7 linked regions of the Homo sapiens genome follow. The protein of the gene in region 3 purifies or fractionates together with the protein of the main gene of each other region. This does not show direct contact. Each region holds a gene or a part of one and is shown on either strand. Other genes may lie near its edges.

What was found.
Region 1: the proteins of DEGS1 (region 3) and SUPT6H purify together in Homo sapiens (affinity purification with mass spectrometry, with the first as the bait; one large-scale study listed by BioGRID). This does not show direct contact.
Region 2: the proteins of DEGS1 (region 3) and CYP51A1 purify together in Homo sapiens (affinity purification with mass spectrometry; one large-scale study listed by BioGRID and IntAct). This does not show direct contact.
Region 4: the proteins of DEGS1 (region 3) and POTEE purify together in Homo sapiens (affinity purification with mass spectrometry; one large-scale study listed by BioGRID and IntAct). This does not show direct contact.
Region 5: the proteins of DEGS1 (region 3) and NUDT21 purify together in Homo sapiens (co-immunoprecipitation; one large-scale study listed by IntAct). This does not show direct contact.
Region 6: the proteins of DEGS1 (region 3) and UFD1 purify together in Homo sapiens (affinity purification with mass spectrometry, with the first as the bait; one large-scale study listed by BioGRID). This does not show direct contact.
Region 7: the proteins of DEGS1 (region 3) and LSG1 purify together in Homo sapiens (affinity purification with mass spectrometry, with the first as the bait; one large-scale study listed by BioGRID). This does not show direct contact.

What each region holds. Positions count from the first base shown.
Region 1 is NC_000017.11:28,686,205-28,689,704, reverse strand, and holds part of SUPT6H (transcription elongation factor SPT6), read right to left. Parts: intron 3,367-3,500; coding exon 3,290-3,366; intron 3,052-3,289; coding exon 2,916-3,051; intron 2,618-2,915; coding exon 2,480-2,617; intron 2,402-2,479; coding exon 2,234-2,401; intron 1,615-2,233; coding exon 1,487-1,614; intron 1,017-1,486; coding exon of another isoform or gene 971-1,016; exon of another isoform or gene 866-970; intron 352-865; coding exon 144-351; intron 1-143.
Region 2 is NC_000007.14:92,111,653-92,114,565, forward strand, and holds the end of CYP51A1 (lanosterol 14-alpha demethylase), read right to left. Parts: intron 2,192-2,913; coding exon 2,013-2,191; 3' UTR 501-2,012; downstream 1-500. UniProt on the Homo sapiens protein: Sterol 14alpha-demethylase that plays a critical role in the cholesterol biosynthesis pathway, being cholesterol the major sterol component in mammalian membranes as well as a precursor for bile acid and steroid hormone synthesis.
Region 3 is NC_000001.11:224,186,240-224,189,739, reverse strand, and holds part of DEGS1 (sphingolipid delta(4)-desaturase DES1), read right to left. Parts: intron 164-3,500; coding exon 1-163. UniProt on the Homo sapiens protein: Has sphingolipid-delta-4-desaturase activity. Converts D-erythro-sphinganine to D-erythro-sphingosine (E-sphing-4-enine). Catalyzes the equilibrium isomerization of retinols.
Region 4 is NC_000002.12:131,247,536-131,251,035, reverse strand, and holds part of POTEE (POTE ankyrin domain family member E), read right to left. Parts: intron 259-3,500; coding exon 188-258; intron 1-187.
Region 5 is NC_000016.10:56,444,833-56,448,332, forward strand, and holds part of NUDT21 (cleavage and polyadenylation specificity factor subunit 5), read right to left. Parts: intron 3,158-3,500; coding exon 2,957-3,157; intron 1,858-2,956; coding exon 1,794-1,857; intron 1-1,793. UniProt on the Homo sapiens protein: Component of the cleavage factor Im (CFIm) complex that functions as an activator of the pre-mRNA 3'-end cleavage and polyadenylation processing required for the maturation of pre-mRNA into functional mRNAs.
Region 6 is NC_000022.11:19,469,194-19,472,693, forward strand, and holds part of UFD1 (ubiquitin recognition factor in ER-associated degradation protein 1), read right to left. Parts: intron 2,616-3,500; coding exon 2,494-2,615; intron 1-2,493. UniProt on the Homo sapiens protein: Essential component of the ubiquitin-dependent proteolytic pathway which degrades ubiquitin fusion proteins.
Region 7 is NC_000003.12:194,665,692-194,669,191, forward strand, and holds part of LSG1 (large subunit GTPase 1 homolog), read right to left. Parts: intron 882-3,500; coding exon 761-881; intron 599-760; coding exon 512-598; intron 1-511. UniProt on the Homo sapiens protein: Functions as a GTPase. May act by mediating the release of NMD3 from the 60S ribosomal subunit after export into the cytoplasm during the 60S ribosomal subunit maturation.

The sequences.
Region 1 (3,500 bases), on a different chromosome or scaffold from region 3:
AGTAGAGCAGGGCAGGGAGATGAGGATCAAGTCTGCCATACTAACAGTATCAGGCTTTCTCTGCACACTCACTGCCCAAGTCTCCTACCAACCTGGCCACTTGGGATGGGTTCTCCTGCCGGGCCTTCCATGCTGTCCCTTACCTGCCTCTCCAGCTCTTCTGCAAAGGCATCAAGGTCCAGGTCTTTCAGTCGCTCTGGGTTTTCCAAGATTTCTTCAAGGGCTCCTGCAGGATTGGCATCCTCGGCTGATTCATCGTATTCCAGGGCATCCACTGCCATCTTCCTAGCCCACTCATAAGTCTCAGGGTGGACACGGGAACCATCAAGGACTTCAATATATGAGTCAGTGCTGGAGGAAAGGCAGAAAAGGAACAGGATATAGAACGATAAGCTTCTAGTAACAACCCAAATGTCCACCAATGGGGAACTGGTTAAATAAATTAGGGCACCTCCATACAATGGAATACTATACAGCCATTAACAAGAATGAGGTAGATCTATGTGTGCTGACATGGAAAGATGGCCACAATATATTGATACGTGAAAAATGCACTGCAAAAACACTATGAACCATATGATCCCATTTTTGTAGTAAATGGGTAGTTAGTAAATGCATAGCAAAAATAAAATTTAGAAAAACTGTAGTATACATAAAATTGTTATGGTAGTTATCTCTGGGGGGTGGGATTATGGGGGACTTCCACTTTCTGCATAATATTTCTATATGTTGAATTTTATATGATGAACTTATATGAGTCTCATAATAAGATAAATCAAGAAAGGGGAAAAAAACCTTTGAAAATTTGCTGATAGCTATTTTCCCCCATAAAGCCTTCCCAGGCTGGTCTTGCCCGTGCACTCACATGGACCTATGTTATTCGTGGAGTGTTACAGCAAAGCTGAGTGGAAAATGAAGTTTTAGAACTTGAAGCCTATTTCCCCACTGATTTCCATTACTGAATGAGGAGCTATGTGCCCGTGGAAAAGATCCTCCAAAGACTGAGTTGATAACTTCTGGAGAGGAAGAGGTCAATAGTGAAGTCCAAAGTCCAAGTGAATAGAACTTTCTCTTAATAACATCATCTCAAAACATACCAAATCTCTCTCCCCCTTCCTTATCTCTTTATACCCCCAAACTCCTTTTTCATTGCCCCCGCTATTCCCACCCTTATCTGGCCACAACAAACCATAATAATAAAAAAGCAAGTTTGTGTTTACTGAACAAAATCTTGTGTTTTCCATGCTTAATTTATAAGCTAAGCTGGTACTTTTTATGTTTCTCTCACACGAAAAATGTTTCACATGATTGAACCGATCTTTTCCATAGGTCAGGGGCTCTTGACTGAATAAAGTTCCTTACCTTTTCTTTAAAACATTTCCTAAGTTAAAATGGCTTGTGGCCCTTTGATAGCCCTAACCCCTGAAACCCGAAAACAAAGCCCACAAGGGAATTCCTCCTGCCCCATCCAGGCAGAGGGCATCACCTGTCCCCCAGGGAGGCCGTGTCGATCTTGAGGAAGCCAGCACAATTCATGAAGACTTTGGGACCCATGTGGCACATGGTGACCAGCTGGGTCCGGCTCTCGAGCCGGGTGTTGTTCTGCTTCAGGATCTGGGGGAGAGAGCTGGACTGAGCCAGGGCAGTAAGCAGGCCCCACCTCCCCAGACTGTTCCAGTCTCTATTAAACCCTCATAACAAAAACTCTGTCCCACCCAGTATCTAGTTGAGCACTACAGCATGCTATCGACCACTCAAAATTAAAAAAAAAAAAAAAAAAGTTTTGCTTTAAATGGGAAAATAATAAACAAATAAATGATGTTATACCTACACCAAAGACCATATACAACTAATGTATGGCTTATAAGTTACAAGTTAACACTAGTTGGCCGGGCGCAGTGGCTCATGCCTGTAATCCCAGCACTTTGGGAGGCTGAGGCGGGTGGATCACCTGGGGTCAGGAGTTTGAGACCAGTCTGGCCAACATGGTGAAACCCCGTCTCTACTAAAAATACAAAAAATTAGCTGGGTGTGGTGGTGCAAGCAGCAGTGAAGGGCACAGCTTTGGCCAACTGGGTCTGAAGTCAGACTCTTTTGACTCTCACTAGCTGAGTGATTTTGGACAAGTCACTGACCTTGGTCCTCCCAATCTGTCAAATTATACTGACAAAGTATATATTCATATTCAATGAAATGGCAAGTTTTAAAATTTCTGAATTCACTCCAATCCTACCTTCAGGAGGTGGGTCCCTTTCCGAGGTCCCAGGCCACAAACATACTGGATCAAGGCCTGGCTGTAAGGGTGGGCAATGGCACGGTTGACATCGACCCCGACCTCATTGACTCGGTTGATAAATTCACAGTACAAGGCGTTGAGCAGCTCCTCTTTCACCACATGCTCCTGTGGACATTCAGCAGGCAGGAGTAAGGTTACTCTGCCTTTCCCTTCACCCGAGCCTGCCTGTCAAATCCTACTCACCTGCAAGGGGTGAAACTTGAGACACAGGATGTCTTCATCGGAACTGCACACCTGGGCAAATTCAATCAGAGGGTCCTGGATGCGCCGGGCCAGGGAGACGGCCTGTCTCAGCACTGGAGGATAATCCCGGAACTCTGCCTAGAGTCAAACGAGGGTCAGCAGGGCCTTAAAATCCCCTTAGCTACAACATCAAGAGGAAATCCAAACCATTCTGGTTTAAATCATTTTCTCTGCTTCTCTGGGATCTTTTTTCCTGAGACCGATTTAATTTCTGGGACTCCCAATCTGAACCGTAACTGCAAAACGGAGAACTTCTGCATGGATAAGTACACAGGTACAGTCCTGTGCCCCTGATAACTTTTGTTTCCCAATTTAATCTCTTTGGGATTAATAGCACTTGCCTGGGCAGGCCCTAAGGGTGAGGCTCCAGCATTACCTCTGACTTCTTGCTGTTCATATAGAGAATGGCCAACTCGTTGTCAACCAGCTCTACCCCAATAGATGACAGCTGCTGGCCCTGGTCCAGCTCATGTACAATGCGCTTCACATCTTCAATCAACATCTGGGCGTCCCTGGTGGGATGAGTGTTGGTCAATGAATATGTTTTCTTAGGGATGGACAGTCTCATGACTGCCTTGGGGGTGAAGAGGTAGGGGAGGAAAGGGCTTTGAAGAAAATGAGGTCAAACATCCCCAGGGACACTCCCTGCACAAGCACAAGCCCCATCTGTTATGGGCATATGCCAGACTCAATAATAAGGGATGAGTTGGGTCACGGCCTTAAACCAGGTGTGGTCTAATCCCTACCTACCTGTTCTCTCCTGCAACTGTCACTACATGAGGCTTCTTATTCAGGAGAAATTTCTTTAGCGTTTCAATGTCTTGAGCCTGGATTGAAAGAAAATTGAAGCTGAATGGCTCTGAGGATGTAAAGATTTCAGGAAATTCTGTCTCCCTATGTTGGAGATCTTGTAAGAACTGGAAGTCTTCAGAAGATATCTGGTCCAAGGTGCTACCAAGGA
Region 2 (2,913 bases), on a different chromosome or scaffold from region 3:
CTTTTTCAGCTAGCATGGCTTGCCATTCAAGGCTATTCTGCTCTAAGAGACAGTGGAGAAAAAAACAGATGGACAAATGATCTGATCAAGCTGAGTTCAGTGCCATTGTTTGACCACCACGCCTCCTTATGATAGTAGGCCTCTGCAATCACACTTGTTTATGCATCTCAATAATTAATTAGTCTGTGATTAAAAATGAAATCTGTTAAGAAGTCTAAAACTATTCACTAAACATTAGACTAGCCTTATCTCGGGGTCGTAACTAGATACTTCAAGAAATCTGTAACATCTGTAATATGAAAATATCTGAGATTTCTATTGACAAAATCATGGATACTGCTAATAAAATGCTGCCCAAATTCATAATTGAAATAAATACTAAATTGCAGTTAGAAATTATTAGTGCAAATAAAGATGTAATTTTTCCCCACCCAAGTTCCTGGATTCCCTAACTCTGCTCACTGAAGCACATATTTTACAATTCATGAATACAGACTGTATTTTTTCAAAGAGAATTTTAATCTGAAAAATTAGCAGAGATTCTGCCTTCACAATTAGAGTTTAACATGAGTCTTCCAGTGTTTTAAAAAGAACTGTAATATACATAAAGCAAAATATTTTGGCATCACCTAGTGAAAACAGACGATGTGGTATTTTTTCAGCCATCTCATATAGTTAGGCCCCGAGTTACAATTTGAGATAAGTTGATTCCTAAACAGAATGTGCTTTACAGAATGTGACCAATTTTATTACTCCCAAGGACCTTGTTTCAGATTATCTTAAAACCAGAGTTCACTGATCTCACATTTTAAAAAGAAAAAAGTTTGTTAACTGTTTTAATCAATATGAGTAGTAACAAACATCCCTAATTGGATTCTAGAGAGGAAGCAGGGAAGGCCAGGTGCGGTGGCTCATGCCTGTAATCCCAGCACTTTGGGAGGCCAAGGCGGGTGGATCACGAGGTCAGGAGTTCAAGACCAGCCTAGCCAACATAGTGAAACCCCCGTCTCTACTAAAAATACAAAAAATTAGCCAGGCATGGTGGCAGGTGCCTGTAATCCCAACTACTTGGGAGGCTGAGGCAGAGAATTGCTTGAACCCGGGAGGCAGAGGATGCAGTGAGCTGAGATCGCACCACTGCACTCCAGCCTGGGCAACAGAGCGAGACTCCATCTCAAAAAAAAAAAAAAAAAAAGGAAGCAGGGAACAACTGAGCCAAAACAAAATTATCCCCTAAGGACTTGACTTTGGACTTCCACATAAATGTGACCTTGTAGAACTAGATACATATTTATCAGGTAAATAAATATGTAATTATTTAGTAATTAGATCAAGATACATGAGCAGTCTTTAGCATTAATAATTACATTATTTTTAGGAACTCTTATCAAATATGGTCCTGGATCTCTTAATTTCCCATATGCAGTGATTTTAGTTAAAATTCCAAAGGATTTCTTTTTCCTATAATATCTCCATTTCTGAGTATCATCATACCAAAACAATTAGTATTCTCTTATTCAAGGCTTTAGATGTTCGATTATTCCCTACCCTTCCATCCTCACACACACAATAATTGCCCAGATAAATAATAATAAACTGTGGTTTCCAAGTATCTCACTGGGATTTTTATTCTTTATACCTTGCAGGACTAGTCCAAGATTTGAATACCCTGAACTTATTTGGCAAGAGCGATGAGTACTCTTAAAATTACTATCTGGAAATTATATTATTTAGAATCTGCCAATTACCTAGATCCCCCCTCAACAATTGTTTCACCAAGGAACTTCCTGAAAGCACATGTATAAGTATCATAACTATTAGAAAATGTTTCAAATGCTATTATATTTGATAGAACCATTCAGTTAACAAAATCCTAAATCATAAACTGGCTTTTAGAATTACACACTTAAAAAAACAGTAAACTACAAGAGTTGTTTTGTACACTTCATTCTCTTCGAATGCCTTTGTGGCTTACAGTGATAATCACATATATTCGTTCCTTGCAACCTTTTTCATTTTGATCTTCGTTTGTAACGGATAACTGGGTTTTCAGGGGTGTGAATCATAGTTGTATAATTCACAGTGGGAAAGTATCCATCAATGAGATCAAATTCATATAAACGAAGCATAGTGGACCAAATTGTCTTAATTTGAACATAGGCAAAATTTTCCCCAATACAACGATGACGCCCTAAAAAAAAGAAAAAGTTATAAGAATCAGTTTAAATTCTTTCTCATCCTTTTTAGCCTGGGGTGATATTATCTACATTTTAGATGAACAGCAAATGTACAGATAATATAATAAAAAGATGACATTCTTTTCACATAAAACAACATGAATTATTAAAAATTCCAGGAGATTTTCAATACCACATTTTAGGAAAACAGTACTTGACTGATCACATAACTTTTCCAATTACTTTTTCTGAAAATATATATCTGGGTTAAATATATGGAAAGTTTGAATCATAAGATGGTAATCTAGTTTGGGAATATAGTAGAATATTCTGTTTGTCCCAAGAAAGCCCTAGTTAAAAGTCAATATGAAAACCTTCCAATCAAACCTCAAATGTCATTATAAATGTATGGAAGAAAATGAGATTTAATGAACCCAAAATAATATACTAAAAAGTCACACCCATGTAGAAACTGACAAGCTGATTCTAAAATGCATATAAAAATGCAAAGGACCTAGGATATCCAAAGCAATCTTGGAAAAAGAACTGAGTTGGAGGACATAAAACTGATTTCAAATCTGACTTCAAGACTAAAGATAAAACAGAGTGGTACTAGGTAAGGATCAACAAATAGATCAATGGAACAGAGCAGAGAGCCCAGAACAGAATATTTTTATGGTTATTTGATTATCAGTACAGACACCAAAGCAAGCCAATGAGGAAAAGCAAGTCTTTT
Region 3 (3,500 bases):
TGGTTAATGCAACTGCCAAACGCATAGGCCCCAAATATGACCCATTTCCAGTCCAAGTCTTTTACTATGTAAAATGCACCCAACTGGGTGAGAACCATCATAATTATAATCCATATCAAATTGGGATCAGGTTTCATCAAGGACTTTATCTCTGGATACTTTGCTGTAAAGAAAAAACAAAAAAACAGGAACTAAGAAAAGTATGTAATAGTTCACCAATTATAATTAAATTAACACCAATTAAACTAACACATTAAATTTGTTCTGTAAATCATATTCCCTTTACTAGAGACTTTAGTGGATATTTAATAACACAGGGAAGGATTCTACTAGTAAAGTTATGAAATATCATGTCACAATAATTTGAGAATTTATGCAGGAAAAATTAGCCTCAAAGTTTAGAAGTTCCACATTCTTTATATTAAAATACATGTTATTTCTGTGTTTAGACAGAGGTACAGCATTCTTACCTTATATAAAACGATTAAATTAACACATCTGACAAAGGATAGAATATAATATACATTTTGTAGTTACCCTAAAATCATGAAACTGGTATTCACAGTTTTCTCAGACAAATCAACATGCTCCAAGTAATTCTGTACTGAATTTTCCCAAAATTGTAATAGTATATAAAAACCAATACTACAGGCTACCAATATAATCAGGGAAAGAACAGTCCTTTCAACAAATGGTGCTAGACCGACTTGTTATCAACAGGCAAAAGAATGGATTCAGACCCCTACCTTACACCATACACAAAAATGAACTCAAAACAGATCACAGACCCAAATTTATAAGAAAATTATAAAACTCTGATAAGAAAACATAGAAATAAATCTTCATGGCCTTTGTGGTTTCTTAGATACTATAACAAGTACAAGTGACAAAAGAAAACAGAGAAATCGGACAGCATCAAAAACTTTCTGTTGCACATGATACTGTCAAGAAAGTAAAAAGACAATCCACAGAAGCGGGGTTATGTTTGCAAATCATGTATCTCATAAGGGACCTATATCCAGAATATATGAAGAACTCTTACAACTAATAATCCAATTAAAAAATGGGCAAAGGATCTGAACCCACTTTTCTCCAAAAGATACGGAAACAGTCAAGAAACACATGAAAGAGGCTCAACACCGTTAGTCATTAGGAAAGTGCAAACTGAAACCATAGATACCACCTCACACTCACTAGGATGACTATAATAAAAAAAGGTAGGTAAAAACAAGGATGTGGAGAAATTAGAACCCTCATACTTTGCTAGTGGGAATATAAAATGGTGCAGCTGCTTTGGAAAACTGTACAGCAGTTCCTCAAAATGTTAAACACCTGGTATATCCATACAAAGGAATATTATTCAGCCAGAAAAAGGAATCATACACTGACATATGCTATAACATGAATGAACCTTAAAATATTATTTTATTGAAATATTATTTTATTGAAAATATATTATTTTAATGAACCTTAAAATATTTAGAGACAGGGTCTACCTCTGTCACTCAGGCTGAAGTACAGTGATGCCATCATAGCTCACTACAGCCTCAAACTCCTGGACTCAAGTGATCCTCCTGCCTCAGTCACCCTAGTAGCTGGGACTACAGGAGCATGCCACTGTGCCCAGCTAAAATATTATGCTAATGGCTGGGTGCAGTGGCTCACACCTATAATGCCAGCACTCTGAGAGGCCAAGGCAGGAGGATCACTTGAGCCCAGGAATTCAAGATCAGCCTGGGCAACATAACAGGACCCTGTCTCTACAAATTAAAAAAAAAAAAAAATTTATATTATGCTAAGTAAAAGCCAATCATAAAAGATCAGGTATTTTATGATTTCATGTATATGAAATGTCCAGAATAAGCAAATCTATAGGCCACAAAGTAGATTAGTGGTTACCTAGGTAGAAGCAGGGGATATGAGGGACTGCTAATGAGTATAGGGTTTCTTTTGGTGATGATGAAATGTTCTAAGGTTATATGGTGGTGACAGCTGCACAACTCTGTGAATATACTAAAAAATACTGAACTGTACACTTTAAATGAATAAATCATGATAGTTGAATTATAATCTCAATAAAGCTATTGGCCAGGTGCTGTGGCTCACACCATTAATCCAGCACTTTGGGAGGCTGAGGCACAAAGACTGCCTGAGGCCCAGTGTTCAAGACCAGCCTGGGCAAACAGATTCTATTTCTACCAAAAATAAAAAAAATTAGCCAGGTGAGGTGGCACAAGCCTGTAGTCCCAGCTACTTAGGATGCTGAAGCGGGAGCATCACTTGAGCCCAAGAATTTATGATCACACCACTGCACTCCAGCCTGGGCAACACAGTGAGACTCTCTCTCAAAAAATAAAACATTAAAAAGCTGTATCATGTTAAAGTATAACAGTGAAGGAACCATTTCTTGTGATTTATTCTTTTTTTTTTTTGAGACGGAGTCTCGCTCTGTTGCCCAGGCTGGAGTGCAATGGTGAGATCTCAGCTCACTGCACCCTCTGCCTCCTGGGTTCAAGCAATTCTCCTGCCTCAGCCTTCCCAGTAGCTGGGATTACAGGCGCCCACCACCACACCCAGCTAATTTTTGTATTTTTAGTAGAGACGGGGTTTCACCATGTTGGCCAGACTGGTCTTGAACTCCTGACCTCAGGTGACCTGTCCACCTCAGCCACCCAAGGGCTGGGATTACAGCCATGAGCCACCCAGCCCAGCTCATCCTCACGAATTTCAAACAGATGCCTTGTAAATGAACTTTTAATGTGAACTCTAAATGTAAACTTAAAGTGTACAATTGTTGGTTGTTCTATCAGGCCCCTTCCCTCCCCCGCCAAAAAGTCAATACTTTCAGAAAGATCTCTTATCATTTGTGTATAATTTAAACAAATCTAAAGATTCTTTCTACAGGTTATTCCATCTCCCACCCTGAAACAGAACATGAGTTAGTATTTACACCTGCATGGAAAACATTGTACACTGTATTTTCATTGAGAAATATGTAGTCCTTCTTTTTTTTTTTTTTTTTTTTTTGAGACGGAGGCTCACTCTGTCGCCCAGGCTGGAGTGCAGTGGCACCATCTCAGCTCACTGCAAGCTCTGCCTCCCGGGTTCACGCCATTCTCCTGCCTCGGCCTCCTGAGTAGTTGGGACTACAGGTGGCTGCCGCCACGCCCGGCTAATTTTTTGTATTTTTAGTAGAGATGGGGTTTCACCGTGTTAGCCAGGATGGTCTCGATCTCCTGACCTCATGATCCGCCCACCTTAGCCTCCTAAAGTGCTGGGATTACAGGCGTGAGCCACCATGCCCGGCCAAGAAATATGTGGTCCTTTTACTTTCCCAGTGAAATGGTTCAGTGATAAGTCTGTGGGGGGAAAAAAGGCTCAGTGTGAGGTAAGTATCAATCAGCACCTTCTCACTTCCTTCATCTCTTTTTCTTGAGACAGTCTCACTCTGTTGCCCAGGCTGGAACGCGGTGGGGCAATCACGGCTCACTGCAGCCTCT
Region 4 (3,500 bases), on a different chromosome or scaffold from region 3:
CCTCAGCCTCTCAAAGTGCTGGGATTACAGGCGTGAGCCACCTTGCCTGGCCAAAAGATTCTTAAAAAAACAATCTACTGATTCTCAAAGCCTAGTCTGAAAGGTAATTTCATTTGGACTATCTAATATTATTAAGGCAAAAAAAACACAACATTAAACAAAAGTTTAAATTTAAAAGTTTCCATGCCTCTGGCTGGCCATTTTCACTGCCTTTAAGCCTTTGTGACTCTTCCTCTGATGTCAGCTTTAAGTCTTGTTCTGTTGAAAAATCCATACATTCAGTTAAAATCAACCACTTAAAACAGTTAAAAACTATTGCCTTTTAAAAACAGATTTGAGACATTTCATTTTATTTCATAAATTGAGTGTTTCATCTTTTGTGAAATTGTCATTTAAGAAATAATTCTCAAAAACTTCAAAAACCCACTTGGGGAGATAGCAGATGTCACCAGATTGAAGACAAACAAACATGTCAAAAATTCCCTCACAAATTCATCCACCCAACATCCATGAACAAAACCACCAGAAACACAGCTTTAAAATACAGTAGAAACATATAAGGTGACACAGTGTACTGTTCTCCACTTCCTAATAGTACCTTATAAATGATTTCCAAAATCACTGCTGACACCTTTATTAGTGTACAACATCTTCCTAATATCTAAAATGTTTCTCTCCACTATTCTGACAAATTTATTTTCTTTTTTTCTTTTTTCTTTTTTTTTTTTTATGAGCTAGAGTCTTCCTCTGTCACCAGGCTGGAATGCAGTGGTGTGATCAGCTCACTGCAACCTCCGCGACCCTGGTTCAAGTGATTCTCCTGCTTCAGTCTCCTGAGTAACTGTGATTACAGGCAAGCACCACCACACCCAGCTGATTTTTGTATTTTTAGTAGAGATGGGGTTTCACCATTGGACAGGATGGTCTCGATCTCCTGACCTCGTGATTCCCTCTGAAAGTGCTGGGATTACAGGTGTGAGCCACCACACCTGGCCTTATTTTCATCTTTTGAAACAATGCTATATGAAGTTTTCCTTGATTCTGCATGTCTTTCCCCAAATAAACAGGTACCTCCTTCCTTGAGGCTGCCTTAGTACTTTACTGATTTTTCTACTGCATCTTGACCACCTAAACTGTACATTATTCCTCCACGTCTGTCCCCTCTGCTCCAAGACTGCAGGGGAGAGTCTTGCACATCATCTTTGTAAAAACAGTCTTTGTTTTACTCAGAAATATTTTATTGAGTCCTGCTAAATACATGCTAGGCATTAGGGTTTAAAAAGAATTAAAATAAAGCATGTCAGAGATGGCTTTTCTAGAACACATGCCCAAGCAGAGACTTAAATATTGAGACTAGCCAGATTAAAAGGTGTAGAGGGCAGGAAAGGGTGACGGCATGCCACGCAGCAGCAAGAGCGGGAGCGACTCCTGAAAGAGTGAAAGTATTTGCCTACAATAGAAGGATGAGTGAGTAGGGCACTGCCAGCAGTTCAGTAATGCCAGAGACAGGGCACACAGGGAAAAGGGCTAAAGATGGAGAGTGGGGCAGAAGTCAGATTATGAAAGCATTATGTGTAATTTTAAGATGCTTGAACATTAATGTTCAAAAGTGGTCCCGGGTCCTATCTGCATTTAGATATAGATCATTTCAATGCCAAAACCAATATTCCTAGTGAACAATTATTCATTAAGACAAGGTGACAGATAGCTCATGTGGACACAGCTGAGATGATACAATGTAGCAAATTCTAAACAATTCTCATGAACACTTGGAAAGTCAGTTCTATAATAAAGTCATACAAATTATAATAAATCAGTAAATATTTGGTTTCGGAAGATGCTTTGTAAAGTTATAATGCATATGAATACAATTAACAGTCGTGAATTCAGAGCTGTGAAAATAAATCAAAGAAACCACATTGTGTTTGAGTCAGCAATCTTTAGATTTCTATCCAGTCTTCCCATCCAGTCCATAAATTCTAAGTATAATCCTGGTACTCACTCTCAAGTTTACGTTAAATACTATCCCATTACAAAAAAACACTCTTTCTCTTACTTCTTTTCATTATGTCCTGCTAAAAAGATTCTGATTGGCTGCAGGCGGCAAGAGGGAAAAACACAAAGCACATTTTGCAGAAAATGATTATTTAGAAGTCAGAACTATGACATGAAGCCAAGCAGGGCACTCTAGGACCGAATTTGCTGTGCTGCCTTCATACGCTCCTTGCTCTTTCTTTTCTGGCAGCTGTGACTCACACAGGTCATGGAGAGTATCATTCCCTAAGAGGAACAACTCCGATATTCATCTTTATCTATTAAGTTCATCTGTCCCAATTCTGTGTTCTGTGGATGCTGACTTTCTGTCACGGACGATGATGCACATGGACATTTATTACTGACTTTCAGATTCTTGGATCTTTGACAAGTCTTATTACTTAGAGTCAAACTAGTAGGATGCGAGTTATAAATGCTGATTATCCAATTACCTACTCAAAATACCCTACACGAATATTCCATTAAACATGCATCGAAAAACATTAGTCATTCCTGCTGACCTGCTGCTCTTTGCTCTTCTGTATTCACCAGAAAATTTCCTACTCCTTCCTCATGTCCAGGTTAAATACTAGTGTGCAATCTGGAAACCTGTACATCATCTGAGATTTCTCTCTGTCCCCCAAGCCTTTCTCATTCAATTATCACTAAATCATATTGACTATACCTCTCTTCTGCCTCTGTTTTATATTCCCACTGCCACTGGGAACACAAACATTTACAAAATGACTTCTATTTAAAAGAAAACTGCCAACTATTAATGTTATTTCTTACAGGAAAAAAAATTAAGCAAAACAAGTGAAAAGGGCATAACGAAGGCCAACATAGTAAAATGAGTAACTGAGATTTCTAACGTTATTTATTTCACCATGGACGGGTGAAAACCTTGTAATACATTGATGCTACTCCAAGGATGTGTGACATGGAAACTATAGCTGACTACTGCAAAAGCTTCCTTTGTCTCCTGGTTTCTTTGCATGATTATCTCCCATCAATCCCAGGAAACTATAGGCCACAGGCCAAATCCAATCTGCATTATGGTTTTGTAAATAAAGTTTTATAGGAGCTCAGTCATGCCTGTTTGCTTACATATAATCATGGTGGCTTTCACACTACAACAGCAGACAACAGCACGGTTAAGTAGATATGACAGAGACCACATAGTCCAAAATATTTCCCACCTGGTCCTTTAAAGAAAAAGCTTGCTAACCCATTTTACACCATAACCAGAATGCCTTAATACTCAAATTTAATCTTGTGGCTCCCCTGCTCAAATTTCTCCAATGAGCCCCCTCCAGCACACATTGTTGGCTCCCTATCAATAGCCATTCCTCATTCTTTCTGGCAGAAAAAACATAAGTCTATTGGGATATTTAATATCCCAATCCCCCTCCTCAGCCTCAGAAAGAAATGTTTATTCTAAGCTAATCAGATATTTACCTTCCCAG
Region 5 (3,500 bases), on a different chromosome or scaffold from region 3:
CATCCCAATCTGAAACTCCAAAATCTCAAACTTTTTGAGCACTGACATGATGCTCACAGGACATGCTCAGGCCGGGCGTGGTGGCTCATGCCTGTAATCCCAGCACTTTGGAAGGCCAAGACAGGCAGATCACCTGAGGTTAGGAGTTCTAGACCAGCCTGGTCAACATGGTGAAACCCTGTCTCTACTAAAAATACAAAAATTAGCTGGGCGTGGAGGCAGGCACCTTTAATCCCATCTACTCGGGAGGCTGAGGCCGGAGAATCGCTTAAACCCGGGAGGCGGAGGTGACAGTGAGACAAGATTGCACCATTGCACTCCAGCCTGGGTGACAAGAGAGAGACTTCGTCTCAAGAAAAAAAAAAAGGAAATGCTCATTGGAGCATTTCAAGTTTTGTATATGGGATGCTTAACTGGTAAGTATAATGCAAATATTCCAAAACCTGAAAAAAATCCCAAATCCTAACCACTTTTTTAATTTTTAATTTTTTTGAGTACACAAGATGTTTTGATACAGGCATGCAATGCGTAATATTCACATCATGGAGAATGGGATATCCACCCCCTCAAGCATTTATCCTTTGTGCTACAAACAATCCAATTATACTCTTTTAGTTATTTTTAAATTTACAATTAAGTGATTATTGACTATAGTCACCCTGTTGTGCTATCAAATAGCAGCTAAACACTTCTGGTCCCAAGCTCTCAGATAAGGAATACACAACCTGTATAAATATACTCCATATATACTTTGAACCAGTCCAGTTTTCAGCCCATGCATGCCCCCACTTTCATAAGTACCTAGCACCTTCAGTTCCTCAGTCATTCTGGTACTCTGCAATGCTAGATTCTGCCTGCCTGTCTGCTGGACTAAGGTTTCTGCTAAGTTAGTTATAATTTGCCCATCTGTTTTCCAGTTTCCAAAAATTTTGCTTTTGTGATTCTCTCATTTTGCACTCCCTCAACCTTAATGGACTTATATCTTTGTACCATACATTATATAAATGGAAGTCCAAGCACAGGAAAATGTTTAAGAGTTATAATACATTTTTAGAAATACTAGAAAGACAAACCAATAGGTCAAAAGTGGGAGAATTACGGGTGACTTTAGTTTTGTTTCTCCTTTGCTTTTCTGTGTTTGCCAAGCTTTTTGCACAGAGAATATATGAGCTTTGTAACAGGGGCAGGCGGCAATTGAATGTTAAAGAAGAAAACTAACATTGAAAACAATTTACAATCTCAAAATCCTCAGTATCTATGCATTTGGCCCCAAGTCTTTACATGCAGGCATTACAATGATTTTTAAAAAGTAGAATAATTTGGGCAAAGTCTAAAAAATATGTGAAAAAAGTGAAAACACAGGCATCTTTCTCTTTTCAAAATTCTATAGAGGCCTACTCTTGAACAAAACTACCTGCATTCAAACCTCTGGCTCTACAACACACTAGCTATATAACAAGAAGTAATTTAAACTTAATAATATCTACTTCCTACAGTTGTGGTGGTGATTAAAGGAATTAGCGCATGTAAAGCACTCAGAACAGTGTCTAGCACAGTAATACTTAAATGTCAGTTTTAATTTACCATTGCTGTGACACAGTTTAACATTTTAAAAATTGAAATAAGTGTAACTTCAACTTGTAAAAAAAAATCAACATTGTACTAACCTTCTGGAGTTTAAGTTGTATTTATTGAAAACTAAATATTCCAAAATAAGCATCCTTTTTACAAGACATTAAAAGCCAAATAACTAGTAAGTTGATGGTATTCAAAGTGGTTAAACAGAAAAATACCTCTGTCATTAAGCGTTTTAGTCCTTCAACTTCATCTTCTCCTGGGTTAAGTTCACCACCAGGTCTGTATAAAAGTTAAGAATTTCAGCTTTCAACTTAATACAATTTGGAGATAACAAATAACACAATAATTGTTATTTCTACCAAGTCACTAAGAACATATTTCAGCATAATAAGGCAATCAAAACAAGTATCAAAGTGAAGGGGGAGAATATGCTTGAATTCATGTCAATTCCCCAGACTAACAGTATACAAACCCTAGGTTTTTTTCCTCTTCGTATATATTTATTTTTATTTTATTGTAGATTCAACGGGTACATGTACAAGTTTGTTACATAGGTATATTGTGTAATGCTAAGGTTTAGGCTTCTAGTGAACCCATCACTGAAACAGTGAACATAACATCCAATAGGAAGTATTTCAACCCTCGCCTCCCCCTCACCCTCCCCACCTTTGGAGTATACAGTGTTTATTTTTTCCAACTTTATGTCCATATGTACCCATCACATAAACCCTAGTTTTAAACAAACAGAATATATAACATAGCACAAACATAAACAAAATTGCTAACCACCAGTCCATCCCAATCTCCTCTCTGGGAGCTATCTGATGATAATGGAGTCTAGAAATGCTCAGAGAGGAATGGATCACATTCTTTAGGCCTAAAGAATGGGAAACTTTTTCAAGAACGTCATCTAAGTATTGGAGACTTTTCTTTTTGGTATAATCTAGTCAAATAGTTACGGATCAAATGTTTGAGAGATGTAGGAGCTTAAATGATAAAACACTAAACTGTTATCCACAAAAACCTAAGTCATCTTAAGAACAGGAAATGCTAATCATACCAAGAAAGAAATATCAATTGTTCTTGGTAATGCTACAATGACATCTAGACATTGATCTTGGACTCAACTATTCCATGGGGTTTCTACCAAGCTCAATCATTAACATCAACAACATACAGAAACATACAGATTACTAGTTAGGAAAATAAATGAGCACTGCAATGGAGAAAAATTACTCATGATTTTCTCTTTCTAAAGACATCATTAACAGCAGTGTTTGTTGAAATGAATGACCGAGGGCTAAAATTGTATTCCAGAGCTGCATAAACAGCAATCCTACTAAAAACTGTCTTGCTGTTAATTTCCAACACTACTTACAGTTTGAAGAAAGTTGTTCCCAGCTGCAGCAGTAACACATGGGGTAGCCGGTGCTCATGTACAATCAGAACCCCTTCTACAGTCCTCCTCATTCCAATTTTATCAAATTCTTCCCTCATGCGCTGAAATCTGGCTGCAACAGAGCTGTCCTTCTCGTAGAGGGGCTCTTTTGTACCAAAAGTATAATTGGTAAGAGGGTACCTGTGATCCGAAGACAAACATCTAACATGAGAACTGAAGAATGTAATTTACCATGACAGACATTAGCATAAAGAAACCATGGTACAAAAAAAGTGCATATATTGTACTCAGACACAGGATTTGTACAGTTAACTAAAGTTAATGAAACAGCAGAGACTGGAATCTTGCTCTCTGGACTCTTAAAGCCAGAGCTTCCATTAGATCAAGCTGCTCCTCCATACTTTAACTTTCAAGTGTAGATAACACTATCCTTAAATGCTTAGAGAAATGGTTATCTGAACATTAGTAATCCTCTGGTTTTATACCATGGCTGCTATTTCAACATTACCAATTTGGCTAATAA
Region 6 (3,500 bases), on a different chromosome or scaffold from region 3:
AGTGATGTTCTAACAGGAAGTATTCTAAGGCTCAGAGTTAGCCAGTCGCAGGCCAGGCGCACTGTCCCTGGGTAGATTTTTGTGGGAAATTTGTCAGCGAGGGGAAGGATACTGGGCTGCAATTGCAAGCCTGAGGGAAGGCTGGCCAGGGATGGGGGGTGGCTTCCTCAGCCAGAGGCAGGACACTGCCATAGGTGATGTGAGGAGGACAGGCAGAGAGGTCAGACTAGGGCTTGAGGTGAGAAATGGGCTGCTGGAAGAGGCCTGAGAGCACTAAGCAGGCAGGAGGAGCTGATGCCTGGCCCTCCCCATGCAGCATTTTAGAGCATACAGCACAACGGGCAGCCGAGTACCCACATGTCACAAACGGCTAGTCCAGGGCTCGGATCTAGGTCAGCAGACGAAGCCTTGGCTACAAGGAAAAAGGCCAGTACCTATTCCAGGCTGGCTCGCCCTGAAGAAGCTTGGGAGCATGGGTGGGATGGAGTCCACCAGCCAGCCCAGAAAAAGCACTGGCTCACATGCCCTCCAAGACAGCAGATGGGGTATACCTGTCACCCGCCTGCCCATGCCAGGAGCTGGAAGGCCAGCTCAGGGGAAGAGGTGGCCTGATGGCTTCACACCCCAAACCAGCTCCAGGCTACCTAAAGAGGCTTTCCAGGGGAGAAAGGGTTCAATTAGTTTCCTGGTCTAAAGCAGTCCAACAGCTTGGACAAGAGGCCACCCAAACTTCAAGTCTATGGGTTAAAGGAGAACCTTCGAGATACAGTGTATCCCCAGCATCACCACCTCCTCTTATAGGTGAGCCACAGAAGGGACTGGGGAAGTAGTCACTGCCTGACACTTCAGCTACCTAGAGTGGCTTCAGTGACCAGGTGTTCTACCGGATGAGCACAATGTGGCCTCAGGCCCTTGGGGGCACCTGCAGACAAACACAAGAATAGCAAGGGGCTGAGCAGCAAATACTGGGGAGGGCAGGTGAGCCAATCTGGGCTTTGAGGCATAAAAGCCCCCCAACAGGCCAGGTTGGGCAGGCCTAGTCAGCTGAGGTGAGGAGGCAGCATGGGAAGGCCAGGCACTAGGAGGTGCAATGGGAGTGCAGGGCTCTTGTCGGGGAGACACTGGCCAGGCCCAGACCTTGGGAAGGACCCTGGGACCCAGGCTGAAGAGGATGCCACTACCATGGCAGCATGGGCAAGGTCACCTGCTACAGCAGGAAAGAGACCTTCAGAATTTTGATTCATATTATTGTTGTTTTTTTTTTTTGAGATGGAGTCTCGCTCTGTCGCCCAGGCTGGAATGCAATGGCATGATCTCGGCTCACTGCAACCTAAGCCTCCTGGGTTTAAGCCATTCTCTTGCCTCGGTCTCCCAAGTAGCTAGGACTACAGGCACGTGCCACCACACCCGGCTAGTCTTTGTATTTTTAGTAGAGACGGGGTTTCACCATGTTGGCCAGGCTAGTCTCGAACTCCTGACCTCAAGTGATCTGCCCACTTTGGCCTTCCGAAGTGCTGGGATTAGAGGCGTGAGCCACCGTACCTGGCCAGAATTTCAATTCATATTTAATCTCAGAAAATATTAGTTAAGGCCATCCCTTCTGAACGTCTGGCGGCCACCATGATAGGGCATCAGCAGGAGAGGTGGGCTGTGCTTCAGACCACCTCCCTGGTGGCAGCCAAGCAAGCACTCCTGAGAGTTTCCAGCCCACAGCTCACTGCGGGGTCTCTCAGTATGCCTGATGTAATCCAAGCACAAAGAGAAGGACAAGCAGGTCCCTTTGTGAACTTCCCTAATGTGCCAGAGCTGGGGAGAGGAGTGAGGAGAAGAAGGAGCCAAGTGGGCCACAGCTACCTGTGTGGAACTCTCACTGCTGCAGGCTCCTCCCTACAGCACTGGCACAGTTCTGCTCACTTCTCTGAGGGGTACAGCCTTGAGGGCAGGCTCTGGTGGCTCACACGCCCTGGATATCCCAGCCCAGATCTGCAATGACATCCTTCAAGTCAACTTTCCAAAGAGAGCCTGCTTGTAAGGAAAAAGACGTCACTCCCATGGCAGCTCAGTTGAGAGATTTGGGAGACTACGTCAGAGGTAACTGAAAACATGTATGCTGTGACAGACTACTAAAAGTAGGGGAAAAGCATAAAAACCTCAAACACCCTACTTACTAGACCACCTAAAAAATACTGTTGCTCCATTATTTTTAAAAACGCCTCACCCAGGAAATCACAGATGAACAGTTCAGCTGCGCAACTATCAAAGAAAAGGCCACTCCCACAGCACAGTGGCCCACAGGTGCGTCCAGAGCCCACCAGCCCGCATAAGGCACAGTGCACTGCTCTGGATCCCTTCTCTCTCGCTGGGTCGGCTCAGGCTAAGACGCTGAGCAGGAGGAGTAGGCGGGGCCACCTGCTCCAGGGCCAGGACTCTCGAGTGCAGGAGATGTCTCTGCCTAAGTGGCTGCTCTCTAGAGACCCTGGCAGCCCCACTCACCCAGTGTGGGAGGTAGCAGATGCCCTCATCAGCCACAAACTCCAGCACGCCACAATGCGTCATGCGGTCCGAATTCTTATTGGTCAGTTTGAACAGCATGGGATAGGTAATGTTAAGTCGGCCTGAAAATAAGAGAGAGACTATGAGGCACAGCTCCTATGAAGGGACACCTGTTCGGCCCACGCCTTCCCATAGAAGGAGCCTCCCCACAATCCTGCCCTCAACCCCACACTCCTCTGGCAGATGAATCCCCCTCTGTGAGAGCACAGTGCACGGCTCAAGGAGGAACCTGGCAACTTGGTAACACAGCACTGGCATAGACTTGTGATTTTCTGAAGTCAACATTTTAAAAAGTGATGTGTTCATTCATTTATTCATAAATAATTTCAGTGCCCACCATGCCCTGGACAAAATCCCGACCTTCAAAGGTTTCTAGTTTGAAGGTAGAAACCTTCCAACAAAGAAAACCACAACCAGATGCTGCAGGTGCTGTGGGAAGAGCTGGCAGGAGGGGGCAGAGCTACTGGGCTAGGCTCCTAGAGGCCGAGTTCTTTAGGCTGGGCACTGGGCGGGCAGACCTGGGAGGAAATCCAGGCAGAGGTGGCAGCCTGAGCAAAGGCGTGGAAGGGAAGAGGAGCCCAGGCAGTTCAGAAATGGTGGATAATTAGGCAAGACAGGCTGGGGACAGGTGTGCGAGTGGTTGGGAAGGGGAGGGGCACCACACGGGGTAGAACCTAGGGCCTGGGCCCAGCGGGCAGTGTGAGCTCTCAGCAGGGTCATGACATAGGACGCCCCCTCTCTCTGATGGACCTTGAGGTGTGGGCTGAAAGCAAGGCCAGAGGCAAGTAAGCTGGACTGGTGACGTGCTGACCCAAGAGGTGCACAGGCACATAAAGGAAGGGCTGGCAAAAAGAGGCAGGAAAACCCAGGAGACACTGGGCCCCCGGGAGAAGACCGAGAAGGAACTGATGGTAGTGATGGTGTTTGCCATGTGTAAGGCCCTTGTT
Region 7 (3,500 bases), on a different chromosome or scaffold from region 3:
ATTTTTAGCAGTGTAAATGCTCAAATTTATTACATTAAAAATAAGTACTGGGCACAAATATCCAGAGTCAAATTATTTTATATATTTCCTGCTGAGACACCATAAAAATACTATTTATTTAGACAATACTCCACCAAATTCAAATTTTATCCTGAAGCTATTTATGCCCTGGAAGTTTACCTATCACACAAAGTCATTTCTTTCCCACACTCTTACTGGAAAAATGTGCAGGAGAGCAGCGATCAACTCCAGGATGCCCAATGGCCAAAGAAGGGAATGAAAGGAAAAGGCCCGGAACTGAGCAGAGTAACCAACTCACGATCTCTGTGCAAGGATGCATTTGCACCTAGCAATCTTGTTTGTGCATACATCTATTTGCACTTGTTAGCAGAATGCTACCATTTCCTTCTTAAAAGAATCAAAACTTCAAAACACAAATGGCTGTGTAAGCATGCCAAATATCTGAACTCAGGATTTCAAAGTAAGTCTTCATAGAGTCTATAATACTCACCGGACAAGCTGACGTCTCCATTCTAGAAAGTTATCTTTCTCTGCTTGTTTGAGTTCTTCTGGGGTAGTATTTTGGTTCCAGTTTGGTCTGAAACAATCATAGAAGGAAAAAAATTCCTCATATAAGTAACCAAAATAAAATAGGTAATTTGGATCTAATAATGGCAGCTGAGAAAAAGAAGCAATTTAAAAAATGAATACTCAGCAGCCTCGGATGTTTTGTGGCATTCTAAATTCTTCTTCAGCTCACCTCCTCGGTATACACAAGAACTGTTTGTTTTCTTCATGGAGCTTCTTAATTCTCTGGCTCTCCTCGAAAGACAGTAGTCCAGTTCTAGCCTCAGCAGGCACAAACTTAATATTAAGTTTCTCTGTTCAAATAAAGAAAAGTACTATTACTTAAGAGGCAGTATAGATACAGAGTGTTTGGTCATACTGATAAACTGAGAAAACTAAAAATGAGAGCCTAAGAGAACTTAAGATTTCTTGATTTAGATTCTTCTAGCCTTGGGTAAATTATTATTCCCAAATGAAGTTTTATACCAAATAACTATCCAGAGTTACTACATTCTTTTTGACTGCCACACAGTATTTCATACTGTGTCTATATCACATTTTCCCTGCTATTGAACATTCAGTTTCCAAGTTTTCATTATTAAAATACAGCATCATCTGGTAGCTTGTTAAAAATGTAAATGCTGCAGCTCTAACCCCCACTCACTGAATAGATGCTCTGGAGTCTAGAGGATAGGGCCAGGAATCTGTATGAAAGAGTTCTCCGGGCAATTCTGCTGCTCTGGGGTAGATGCTGAGAAGTAGAGGTGCTGGCTCATAGGATATGAAACTGTAAACTTGCTTTCTTTGTCTTCTGTTTTTTTTTTGAGACAGAGTCTCACTCTGTCACCCAGGCTGGAGTGAAGTGGCACAGTCTCGGTTCACTGCAACCTCAAACAATTCTCCCAACTCAGCCTCCTGAGTAGCTGGGACTACAGGCCCGCACCACCACGCCCGGCTAATTTTTGTATTTTTAGTAGAGACGGGGTTTTGCCATGTTGGCCAGGCTGGTCTCGAACTACTGACCTCAGGTGATCCGCCCGCCTCGGCCTCCCAAAGTGCTGGGGTTACAGGCATGAGCCACCGCACCCAGCCTGCAACTGTAAACTTCGAACAGATACTGCCAAAACAAATCTTTCCAACTTCCCTCTCTACTGTCTCACCCCATAACCTAAGAACATACTACCATTAACCCTGATCCTTCTCATACACACCCTTACACTTCTCTTTCCCTGCCATAGTCAGCTATCTCAGGAGAATACAACTTGCTCATTCCTTGATTTCCTCACCTCCCACTTCCTGTTTCTCTAGATTCCAGCTGTGGCTCTCTCACTCCACTAAAACTGTTCTGGCAGATATTACTAATGACTTTAAGAAGAAAATAGCAGCCAGGTGCGGTGGCTCACGTCTGTAATCCCAGCACTTTGGGAGGGCAAGGTGGGCGGATCACAAGGTCACGAGTTCGAGACCAGCCTGGCCTACAAGGTGAAACCCCCGTCTCTAGTAAAAATACAAAAATTAGCCAGGGGTGGTGGTGCATGCCTGTAATCCCAGCTACTCAGGAGGCTGAGGCAGGAGAACCGCTTGAACCTGGGAGGCAGAGGTTGCAGTGAGCTGAGATCGCACCACTGCACTCCAGCCTGGGCGACAAGAGAGAGACTCCGTCTCAAAAAAAAAAAAAAAAAAAATATATATATATATATATATATATATAGCTTTACTACAATATGATTCACATACTATACAATCCACCCACTAAAGCATACAATTCAATAATTTTCAGTATATTCACAGAGTTGTGCAGCCATTGCCACAATCCATTTTAGAATATTTTCATCACTCCAAAAAGAAAGCTTTACCCATTAGCAGTCACTGTACACCCCCAGGTACCTGGTGGAAATCATCTACTTTCTGTAGATTTGCCTCTTTAGGACTTTTTGGTGTTTCCACTTTTTGGTGATTACGAATAATGCTGCTATGAATACACATGCACATATTTTTGTGTAGACATGTTTTCATTTCTTTCGGGCATATACCCAGGAGTGGGACTGCTGGATCAGATGGTAATTCCATGTTTTACCTTTTGAGGAACTGCCAAAATTTTTTTATAAAACAGCTACACCATTTTATACTCCCACAGCGATGTATGGTGTTATAATTTCTCTACATCCTCACCAACATTTGTTATAGTCTCTTTTATTTTAGCTATCCTAGTGGGTGAAGTGGTTATTTCACTGTGAAACCCAGGAGTTTATTTTTGTCCCTTCACTCTTTTTCACTTACACTACCCTCTCCATCAAGTCTGGTTTACTCTAGCTCCTTAAGTGTTCTTGTTCCTCTTATTTTCTCCCTTCTTCTACTACCTGTATTTCAGTTCTGGCCTATTTTGCTAGACTAAAGTGATACAGTCTCCTAACTCATCTTGCTTCCTTAAAATTCATCAGTGATCTTTTAAAAAATGAAATCTCATGTACCCATGAGACATACCTGCACTCCCATGTTCCCTGCAGCGCTATTCACAAGAGCCAAGATATGGAACCAACCTCAATGCCCATCAACGTATGAATGGATAAAGAAAACGTGGTATATGTAGTATACAATGGAATACTATTCAGCATTACAAAAGAGGGAAATGTTGACACTTGTGACAATATGAATGAACCACTCTGCTATGAGAAATAACCCAGGCACAGAAAGACAAATACCACATGATCTCACTTATACGTGGAATAAAGCCGAGCTCATAGAAGCAGAGAGAAAATGGTGGTTACCAGAGATTAGGGAGTGGGGCAAATAGGAGGATACTGGTCAAACGGTAAAGTTTTACTGAGGCAGGATGAATAAGTTCTGGAGGTCTAATGTACAGCCTGGTGTCCATAGTTAATAATAACACATTTATTAGTTAATAATATGAAATTTGCTAAGACAGTATATAT